2 separate regions of the Homo sapiens genome follow, and region 1 is linked to region 2. Evidence: fine-mapped expression QTL. A gene starts in region 2. The other region holds a variant in brackets. All regions are shown on one strand. Distances are between the middles of the regions.

What was found. PIP is the estimated chance that this variant, and not a neighbour inherited with it, causes the effect.
Region 1: its variant is the best candidate, but not a certain one, in a credible set for the expression of ACOX1 in whole blood (TOPMed, PIP 0.74).

Annotation. Positions count from the first base shown.
Region 1 is chr17:75,946,562-75,950,930 of GRCh38, reverse strand. It overlaps ACOX1 (acyl-CoA oxidase 1), which reads left to right. Exons shown (of 14, transcript NM_004035.7): 9 at 1-157; 10 at 1,034-1,213; 11 at 1,331-1,436; 12 at 1,571-1,714; 13 at 2,474-2,680; 14 at 4,136-4,369. The coding sequence ends at 4,183. Among named protein-coding and RNA genes, the nearest start is that of FBF1, 7.7 kb to the right of the region's middle. The variant A/C (reference allele first, on the strand shown) is at 2,416.
Region 2 is chr17:75,976,793-75,981,177 of GRCh38, reverse strand. ACOX1 (acyl-CoA oxidase 1) reads left to right here and starts at 2,012. Exons shown (of 14, transcript NM_004035.7): 1 at 2,012-2,213; 2 at 2,485-2,644. The coding sequence starts at 2,105. TEN1 (TEN1 subunit of CST complex) reads right to left here and starts at 1,938. Exons shown (of 4, transcript NM_001113324.3): 1 at 1,667-1,938. TEN1-CDK3 (TEN1-CDK3 readthrough (NMD candidate)) reads right to left here and starts at 1,961. Exons shown (of 10, transcript NR_037709.1): 1 at 1,667-1,961. RefSeq lists enhancers at 1,450-1,549, 1,671-2,254, 2,120-2,349, 2,255-2,838 and a silencer at 1,970-2,039.

The sequences.
Region 1 (4,369 bases), 30 kb after region 2:
CCTCCTGGACTGCAAACACTGGCATTGAAGCATGTCGGATGGCTTGTGGTGGGCATGGCTATTCTCATTGCAGTGGTCTTCCAAATATTTATGTCAATTTCACCCCAAGCTGTACCTTTGAGGGAGAAAACACTGTCATGATGCTCCAGACGGCTAGGTGAGAGTCAAATCCTCGATTCCTCCCATCTGTTCATAAGAATGTTCTAGTCCTTTTCCTAGGTTCTTGTTCCCATGGTTTTTCTTCACCGTATATATATATTTGTTCCTGAAAGGTATACTTTTGCCTTCCATCCTGACTCACGGTTTTTATTTCGTGGTGAGGCTAGAGAGTATGAAGCACCTGTTACATAGCTTGCAGTTGTATCAAGGATAGAGTTACTGGGCTGGGCACAGTGGCTCATGACTGTAATCCCAGCACTTTGGGAAGCTGAGGTGGGCAGATCATGAGGTAAGGAGTTCAAGACCAGCTTGATCAACATGGTGAAACCGTGTCTCTACTAAAAAAATACAAAAAAATTAGCCGGGCATGATGGCACATTGCCTGTAATCCCGGCCTACTTGGGAGGCTGAGGCAGAAGAATCGCTTGAACCTGGGAAGCGGAGGTTGCAGTGAGCCAAGATTGCGCTATTGCACTCCATCCTGGGCAACAAGAGCGAAAACTCCATCAAAAAAAAAAAGGCCAGGTGTGGTGGCTTACTCCTGTAATCCCAGCACTTTGGGACGCCAAGCCGGGTAGATCACTTGAGGTCAGGAGTTAAGAGACCAGCCTGGCCAACATGGTAAAACCCTGTCTCTACTAAAAAAACAAAATATTAAAAATTAGCCAGGAATGGTGGCAGGTGCCTGTAGTCCCAGCTACTTGGGAGGCTGAGGCAGGAGAATCATTCATTTGAACCCAAGAGGAGGAGGTTGCAGTGAGCTGAGATCTGGCCATTGCACTCCATCCAGCCTAGGCAACAAGAATGAAACTCCATCTCAAAAGAAACAAAAGAAAGTAGAGTTACTAAAAGCATGTTTACTGGTGACTTTTAGGTTCCTGATGAAAAGTTATGATCAGGTGCACTCAGGAAAGTTGGTGTGTGGCATGGTGTCCTATTTGAACGACCTGCCCAGTCAGCGCATCCAGCCACAGCAGGTAGCAGTCTGGCCAACCATGGTGGATATCAACAGCCCCGAAAGCCTAACCGAAGCATATAAACTCCGTGCAGCCAGGTGAGCTCTCCCTCAAGAGCTAGAATACGCAGCAGTGGGGCTGGGGCCCTGACAGATGGCAAGAAGGCATGAGTACTGTTGATCATTTCCTCAGACCTCCAATCTATGTCTTAACAGATTAGTAGAAATTGCTGCAAAAAACCTTCAAAAAGAAGTGATTCACAGAAAAAGCAAGGAGGTAGCTTGGAACCTAACTTCTGTTGACCTTGTTCGAGCAAGTGAGGTCAGTGGTAGTTCTCTCTTTTTCCCCTTCCCTGCCCTCAGCATCCCGCATTTTCTGGTACAGAAACCCTAGTCACTGTATATTGAATCTTTTTCCAAGGTTCTCAAACTCTGGTGTTTTCTTTTTAATCTTAGGCACATTGCCACTATGTGGTAGTTAAGCTCTTTTCAGAAAAACTCCTCAAAATTCAAGATAAAGCCATTCAAGCTGTCTTAAGGAGTTTATGTCTGCTGTATTCTCTGTATGGAATCAGTCAGAACGCGGGGGATTTCCTTCAGGTCAGTATTTTCTAAGTATAAGTCTTTTTTGTTGTTGTTTTAAGAAAAATAATTGTTGGCTGGGCACGGTGGCTCATGCCTGTAATCCCAGCACTTTGGGAGCCCAAGGCGGGTACGGTGATCACTTGAGGTCAGGAGTTCAAGACCAGCCTGGCCTGGTGAAACCCTGTCTCTACTAAAAATACAAAAATTAGCCAGGTGCAGTGGCACATGCCTGTAATCCCAGCTACTAGGGAGGCTGAGGCACGAGAATCATTTGAACCCTGGAGGCAGAGGTTGCAGTGAGCCAAGATGAAACCACTGCATTCCAGCCTGGGTGACAGAGCAATACTCTGTCTCAAAAAAAAAAAAAAAGAAAAAGAAAAATAGCCAGGCACAGTGGCTCATGCCTGTAATCCCAACACTTTGGCCAAGGCGGGCAGATCACCTGAGGTCGGGAGTTCGAGACCAGCCTGACCAACATGGAGAAACCCCATCTCTACTAAAAATACAAAATTAGCCAGGTGTGCTGGCGCATGCCTGTAATTCCAGCTATTTGGGAGGCCAAGGGAGGAGAATTGCTTGAACCTGGGAGGCGGAGATTGCGGTGAGCCAAGATCACACCATTGTACTCCAGCCTGGGCAACAAGAGTGAAACTCAGTCTCAAAAAAAAAAAAAGAAAAAAATAATTGTCATCCGCTTTATAGCTGTATATGCATAT[A/C]ATTATGTCTATCTATATACATATATATGTTTTATTTACTTATTTTGGTCTCTTTTAGGGGAGCATCATGACAGAGCCTCAGATTACACAAGTAAACCAGCGTGTAAAGGAGTTACTCACTCTGATTCGCTCAGATGCTGTTGCTTTGGTTGATGCATTTGATTTTCAGGATGTGACACTTGGCTCTGTGCTTGGCCGCTATGATGGGAATGTGTATGAAAACTTGTTTGAGTGGGCTAAGAACTCCCCACTGAACAAAGCAGAGGTAAAAATCCAGTGTCTCTGCACCTTTTTAAAAGTCTTCACTTAAATATTGAAGCAGGAAAGGCCTCTCGAAGGGGATTTATCTGTGAAAGCTCTGAAAGTACCATGGCCACTTCTGACAGTCACTTTATTTGAGCAACAGGTTCAGAAGGGAACTGGGTTGTTCCCACAGTAACCAGGGTCTTAATCAATTTCAATTTTTGATAACGAATTGAACATTTAAAAATATATACAGGCCGGGTGCGTTGGCTCACACCTGTAATCCCAGCACTGTGGGAGGCCGAGTGGGCAGATCACCTGAGGTCAGGAGTTCGAGACTAGCCTGGCTAAAATGGCGAAACCCAATCTCTACTAAAAATACAAAAAAAGCAGCCAGGCAGTAATGGTGCACGGCTGTAGTCCCAGCTACTCGGGAATTCTCCTGCCTCAGCTTGAACCCAGGAGAACCCAGGAGGCGGAGGTTGCAGTGAGCCACGTTCGTGCCATTGCACTCCAGCCTGGGTGACAAGAGCAAAACTCTGTCTCAAAAAAAAAAAAAAAGTATACACACACACACACACACACAAATAGAATAAAATATACAAAAAGAGAATTCCGTAGTGCTCTTTGGTACACCCTTTGTCTAGCAGCAATGACTATCAACTCGTGGCTAGTTGTGTTTCATCTGAACCTTCATCCCCCTCCTCCTGGGGACTATTTTGAAATAAATCTAAGACATCAGGGCCAGGCTCAGTGATGCACACCTGGGAGGCCGAGGCAGGTGGATCACCTGAGGTCGGGAGTTTGAGACCAGCCTGACCAACATGGAGAAACCTTGTTTCTACTAAAAATACAAAATTAGCCAGGCGTGGTGGCGCATGCCTGTAATCCCAGCTACTTGGGAGGCTGAGACAGGAGAATTGCTTGAGCCTGGGAGGCGGAGGTTGCGGTGAGCCGAGACCATGCCATTGCACTCCAGCCTGGGCAACAAGAGCGAGGCTCCGTTTCAAAAAAAAAAAAAAAACTAAGACATCAGATAATTTTATCCATAAATAATTCAATGCATAGCTCTAAAAGATAAGGACTCTTCAGAAACAACCACAGGCTGGGCACAGTGGCTCACGCCTGTAATCCTAGCACTTTGGGAGGCTGAGGTGGGTGGATCACTTGAATTGAGGAGTTCTAGACCAGCCTGGCCAACATGGTAAACCCCCATCTCTACAAAAAAATACAAATAGCAGCCAGGTGTCATGGCACACACCTGTAGTTCTAGCAACTCGGGAGGCTAAGGTGGGAAGATCGCTGGAGTCTGGGAGGCAGAGGCTGTAGTGAGCCAAGATTGTGCCACTGCACTCCAGCCTGAGCAACAGAGCAGGACTCAGTCTCAAAAAAAAAACAAAAACAAAAACAAAAAACAGTATACTATTTAACATGGCAAACTCTTTATTAGTAGTTCTTCTCTCTCCTTTCCCCACAGGTCCACGAATCTTACAAGCACCTGAAGTCACTGCAGTCCAAGCTCTGAAGTGTCACAAGGACAAGTTTAATCTGCTTCAGAAAGCGCCTGTGTGCAACTCAAATTTTGTGGAATCTTTTTCGAATTCAAATAGCTATAGAGCAAATGATAAATTGACCCCTTTTTATAAATGGAGGGAAAAAATGAACAGATTTCAGAGATTAAATGAAAAAAAGCAGATGTTTTAAGTGCAAT
Region 2 (4,385 bases):
ACAGAAGAAAAGTTCTTTGTTCTATTCTTGTAATTCTCGTGTAAATTTGAAATTATTTCAAAATAAAAACTCAGCAAATTTAGCTCTTCATCTAAGTCTTTTCTATTCAATGCTAAGTACACCCCTTATCATTGTTACATTAAGAGCAATTGGTTTCCTAGAATATTAGAACTAGAAGGTCAGCTGTCAAGCAGCCATTTGTTCACTCCACAAAGATTTCCTGAGCACCTTTAGCGGGGCAGGCACTGTGCCAGGTACAGAGAATAAACTAGACACCCTCTCTGCTGTTGAAGGGGCCTGAGATCAGCAGCTTAATAAGACAAATGAGGATCCTGAGGTCCTAGGGGTTAAGAGTGTGTATTATAGTTCTATTATTCAAATTATGAATGTTATGCATCTCTCGTAGTTTTACTTCTGAGAAAACCAAAGTCATAGTATTACACAGACTACAGACAGGCTAGGCGCAGCGGCTCACGCCTGTAATCCCGGCGCTTTGGGAGGCCGAGGCAGGTGGATCAACAGGTCAGGAATTCGAGACCAGCCTGGCCAACATGGCAAAATCCTGTCTCTACTAAAAATACAATTAGCTGGGTGTGGTGGCGAGCCCCTATAATCCCAGCTACTCGGGAGGCTGAGATAGGAGAATCGCTTGAACCCAGGGGGTGGAGGTTGCAATGAGCTGAGATCATACCACCACACTGCAGCCTGGGCGACAGAGCGAGACTCCGTCTCAAGAAAAAAAAAAAAAATGACTAGAGATGATTCAACAAATCCCTGAATCTCCCTTGTCTACAATCCCACTGGGCAGAACTGTTTTTGTTTTTTGTTTTTTTTCTGTAGAGACAGGGTCTCACTATGTTGCCCAGGATGGAGTGCAATGTCACAATCTTGGCTCACCGCAACCTCCACCTCCGGGGCTCAAGCCACCATCCCATCTCAGCCTTCAGAGTAGCTGGGACTACAGGCGCATGCCACTACACCCAGCTAATTTTTTGGTATTTTTTGTAGGGATGGGGTTTTGCCATGTTGCCCAGGCTGGTCTTGAACTCCTGGGCTCAAGTGATACGCCCGCCTCGTCCTCCCAAAGTGCTGGGATTCCAGGCGTGAGCCACCGCGCCCGGCCCTACACTAGGTTTTAACAGTAAGTGTGCATTTCCCACTTTGATGACGGTGATGGCGAAAGCAAAGAAGTCTGGATTCCAAGACCTCTAGTAACTGCCAGGTTGCGGGGGAAAATGTCTGGTTTCCCAGACAGAAGGCTTAGAGCAGCACCGCCCGCTTGGTCTCATTCTAAGTCCCCGTCCACCCCTTGAACAGCGCTCACAATCCCACACCCAGGGCCCCGGAACCCACGCCTCTGCCAGTAAAGACGCCATTATCTTAACAAAAGGTAACTGGAGCCTCTCCCCAAAGAGACTGGTTCCCGTCCCATTCTTCTCCAATCCGGGTGGATTTGGCAAAAGCCCAAGTGACCCTCCCTAGCAATTCCGCAAAGCCCCATCTCCCGCCCCAGACTCCAGAGTCTCCCGACCACTCTCATTTCGGAGAGGCCTAGGGGCACGGACCCGGAAGCGTGACAGAGGCCGCGGGGTAAGAGGGGGGCAAGTGCAGGCGCAATCCCTCCTCAGCCTCGTTGTCCCGCCCCCTTCCCAAGGCCCCAGCCAACCTGTTCTAGGCGTCGCCGGTCCTCGGATTTCTTCTTTCCGCCTCGCGTGGTCACGTGACGGGGGAGGGGCGGGATACAAAAAGTGCTTTATTTTCCCACTCCCCGGACGCCCAGCAGGGCAGTTTCTTGACCTTCGGAGCCCCTTTCCCGAGGATCCGCTCGGGAGCCTCCCCTGGCCAGGAGCAGGGGATTAGTCTGCCCCGCGACCGGCCCCAGCCACGACGCGGACATCGCCCCCTCTGTCTGGGCCGCTGTCACTCACGCGCCAAAGGGCCACGGAGAAAGAAGGGGCGGGCCGGGGCGGGCCGGGCGAGCGGAGGCGGGGACTTGCGCCGTCCTGAGGCTGCCTCCTAGGGTCCGGCCGGCGCTGGAGCTGCGGATTTAGATTGTCACTGCCACCTCGGTCGGTGCTTACTTCGCTGCCAGCTGGTCGTCGCCATGAACCCGGACCTGCGCAGGGAGCGGGATTCCGCCAGCTTCAACCCGGAGCTGCTTACACACATCCTGGACGGCAGCCCCGAGAAAACCCGGCGCCGCCGAGAGATCGGTGAGGGCGGCGGGCGAGACCTCCCTCCTTTCCCGAGAAAAGCTGGAGACTCCCTCGATGCGGAGTCAGGGGCGCTGTGGGGCCTAGGCCCTCTGGCCCAGCGTTAGGGGAGCCGGGACCCCCACTTCGAGGAACAGCCTGTGTCCCTGGTGGGGGGATATCGCCATTCCCCAGGTGTGTCCGCGACTCTGAAGCCTATTGTGATTCAGGGAGGGTGGAACGGAGGCCCGAGTGTCTGTCTGCCTTTTAATGCCCTTTAACCCCCTTTCAGAGAACATGATCCTGAACGACCCAGACTTCCAGCATGAGGACTTGAACTTCCTCACTCGCAGCCAGCGTTATGAGGTGGCTGTCAGGAAAAGTGCCATCATGGTGAAGAAGATGAGGGAGTTTGGCATCGCTGACCCTGATGAAATTATGTGGTTTAAAAAGTAGGTATGCCTTAGAACAGAGCAAGTGTTGTTAAGCCTAAACTTTACAGCTGCGGTCTATGGTGGCCTTTCATCACCGTGCTTGGTGTTTGAAGATGCAAACTGGCATATTTTCATGCAACTTTATAAAGTTATATGTGTGGCCGGGCGCGGTGGCTCACGCCTGTAATCCCAGCACTTTGGGAGGCCGAGGCGGGCGGATCACCAAGTCAGGAGATCGAGACCATTCTGGCTAACACGGTGAAACCCCATCTCTACTGAAAATACAAAAATTAGCCGGGCGTGGTGGCGGGCGCCTGTAGTTCCAGCTACTCGGGAGGCTGAGGCAGGAGAATAGCGTGAACTAGGGAGGCGGAGCTTGCAGTGAGCCGAGATCGCGCCACTGCACTCCAGCCTGGGCAAGAGTGCGAGACTCCATCTCAAAAAATAAATAAATAAATAAATAAATAAAGTTATATGTGTGAAAAATAATGTGATCACTTTTGTATCCAAGCCTTTTCGTGGGATGACGTGTTTGTAGAATGCTGATAATAAATGGAAATGCAGGAGTTTTTGTTCTCAAGAGTACAGTTTCAAGGATGTTGTAAAAGCATTGTTCTGCCCAAGCAACTCAAATTTGACTGATTTAAATGCAGAATCATTTTGCTCTTTGTAAGGAGGACTGCTAAAATTCTGAATCTGGGAGCATTTTTTTTTTTAGTTGCACGACCATTTAAATATTTTGGAGCAATAGCAGATTATATTATATGGTAGTGTGGACCTGGATGAAGAATGATCTGTGACGCCTCTGAATGAATAGAAAGTCTAAGAACCCAGTAGTTCTGAATCCATGACAGTGCTTGAATGGTTGTCTTGTGCATATGAGAGAGACGTCATAAAAACCTGCCTTGGTTCTAGTGTGGAAGAGAGTATATCCTTTTTTCAGACCATGTGTTTTGTTGTGTTTTTTGTTTTTGTTTTTGTTTTTTGAGACGGAGTCTCGCTCTGTCGCCCAGGCTGCAGTGCAGTGGCACGATCTCGGCTCACTCCAGCCTCCACCTCCCGGATTCAAGCGATTCTCCTGCTTCAGCCTCCTGAGTAGCTGGGATTACAGGCGCCCGCCACCACACCCGGCTAATTTTTGTATTTTTAGTAGAGATGGGGTTTCGCCATGTTGCCAGGCTGGTCTCAAACTCCTCACCTCGTGATCCACCCTGCTCCACAAGGAACGGTAAAAATAAATAAAAATAAGGACTTCGGGCCGGGCACAGTGGCTCATGCCTGTAATCTCAGCACTTTGGGAAGCCAAGGCAGGTGGATCACTTGAGGCCAGGAGCTCGAGACCAGCCTGGCCAAAATGGTGAAACTCTCTCTACTAAAAATACAAAAATTAGCCGGGCCTGGTGGTGCGCTTCTGGGGTCCCAGCTATTCAGGAGGCTGAGGCAGGAGAATCCCTTGAACCTGGGAGGCAAAGGCTGCACTGAGCCGAGATCACGCCACTGCACTCCAGACTGGGCAACAAAGAGAGACTCTGTCTCAAAAAAAAAAAAAAAAAAAAAAAAGACTTTTTTGCCTTAACCTAAACAAACACTATTACATGATCCTAGTACAAGATTATTTTGGCCTATAGCATTTTTTTCTCATTTATTCCTGGGCATTTTCTCTTTTAGGTTTCTCCATTTTAAAGGAACTCCAGTATTTTCATCGGTAAAGACTAAATCGTATGAGTGGTGTATAGACTAGAACCAAGCTAAATAGAAC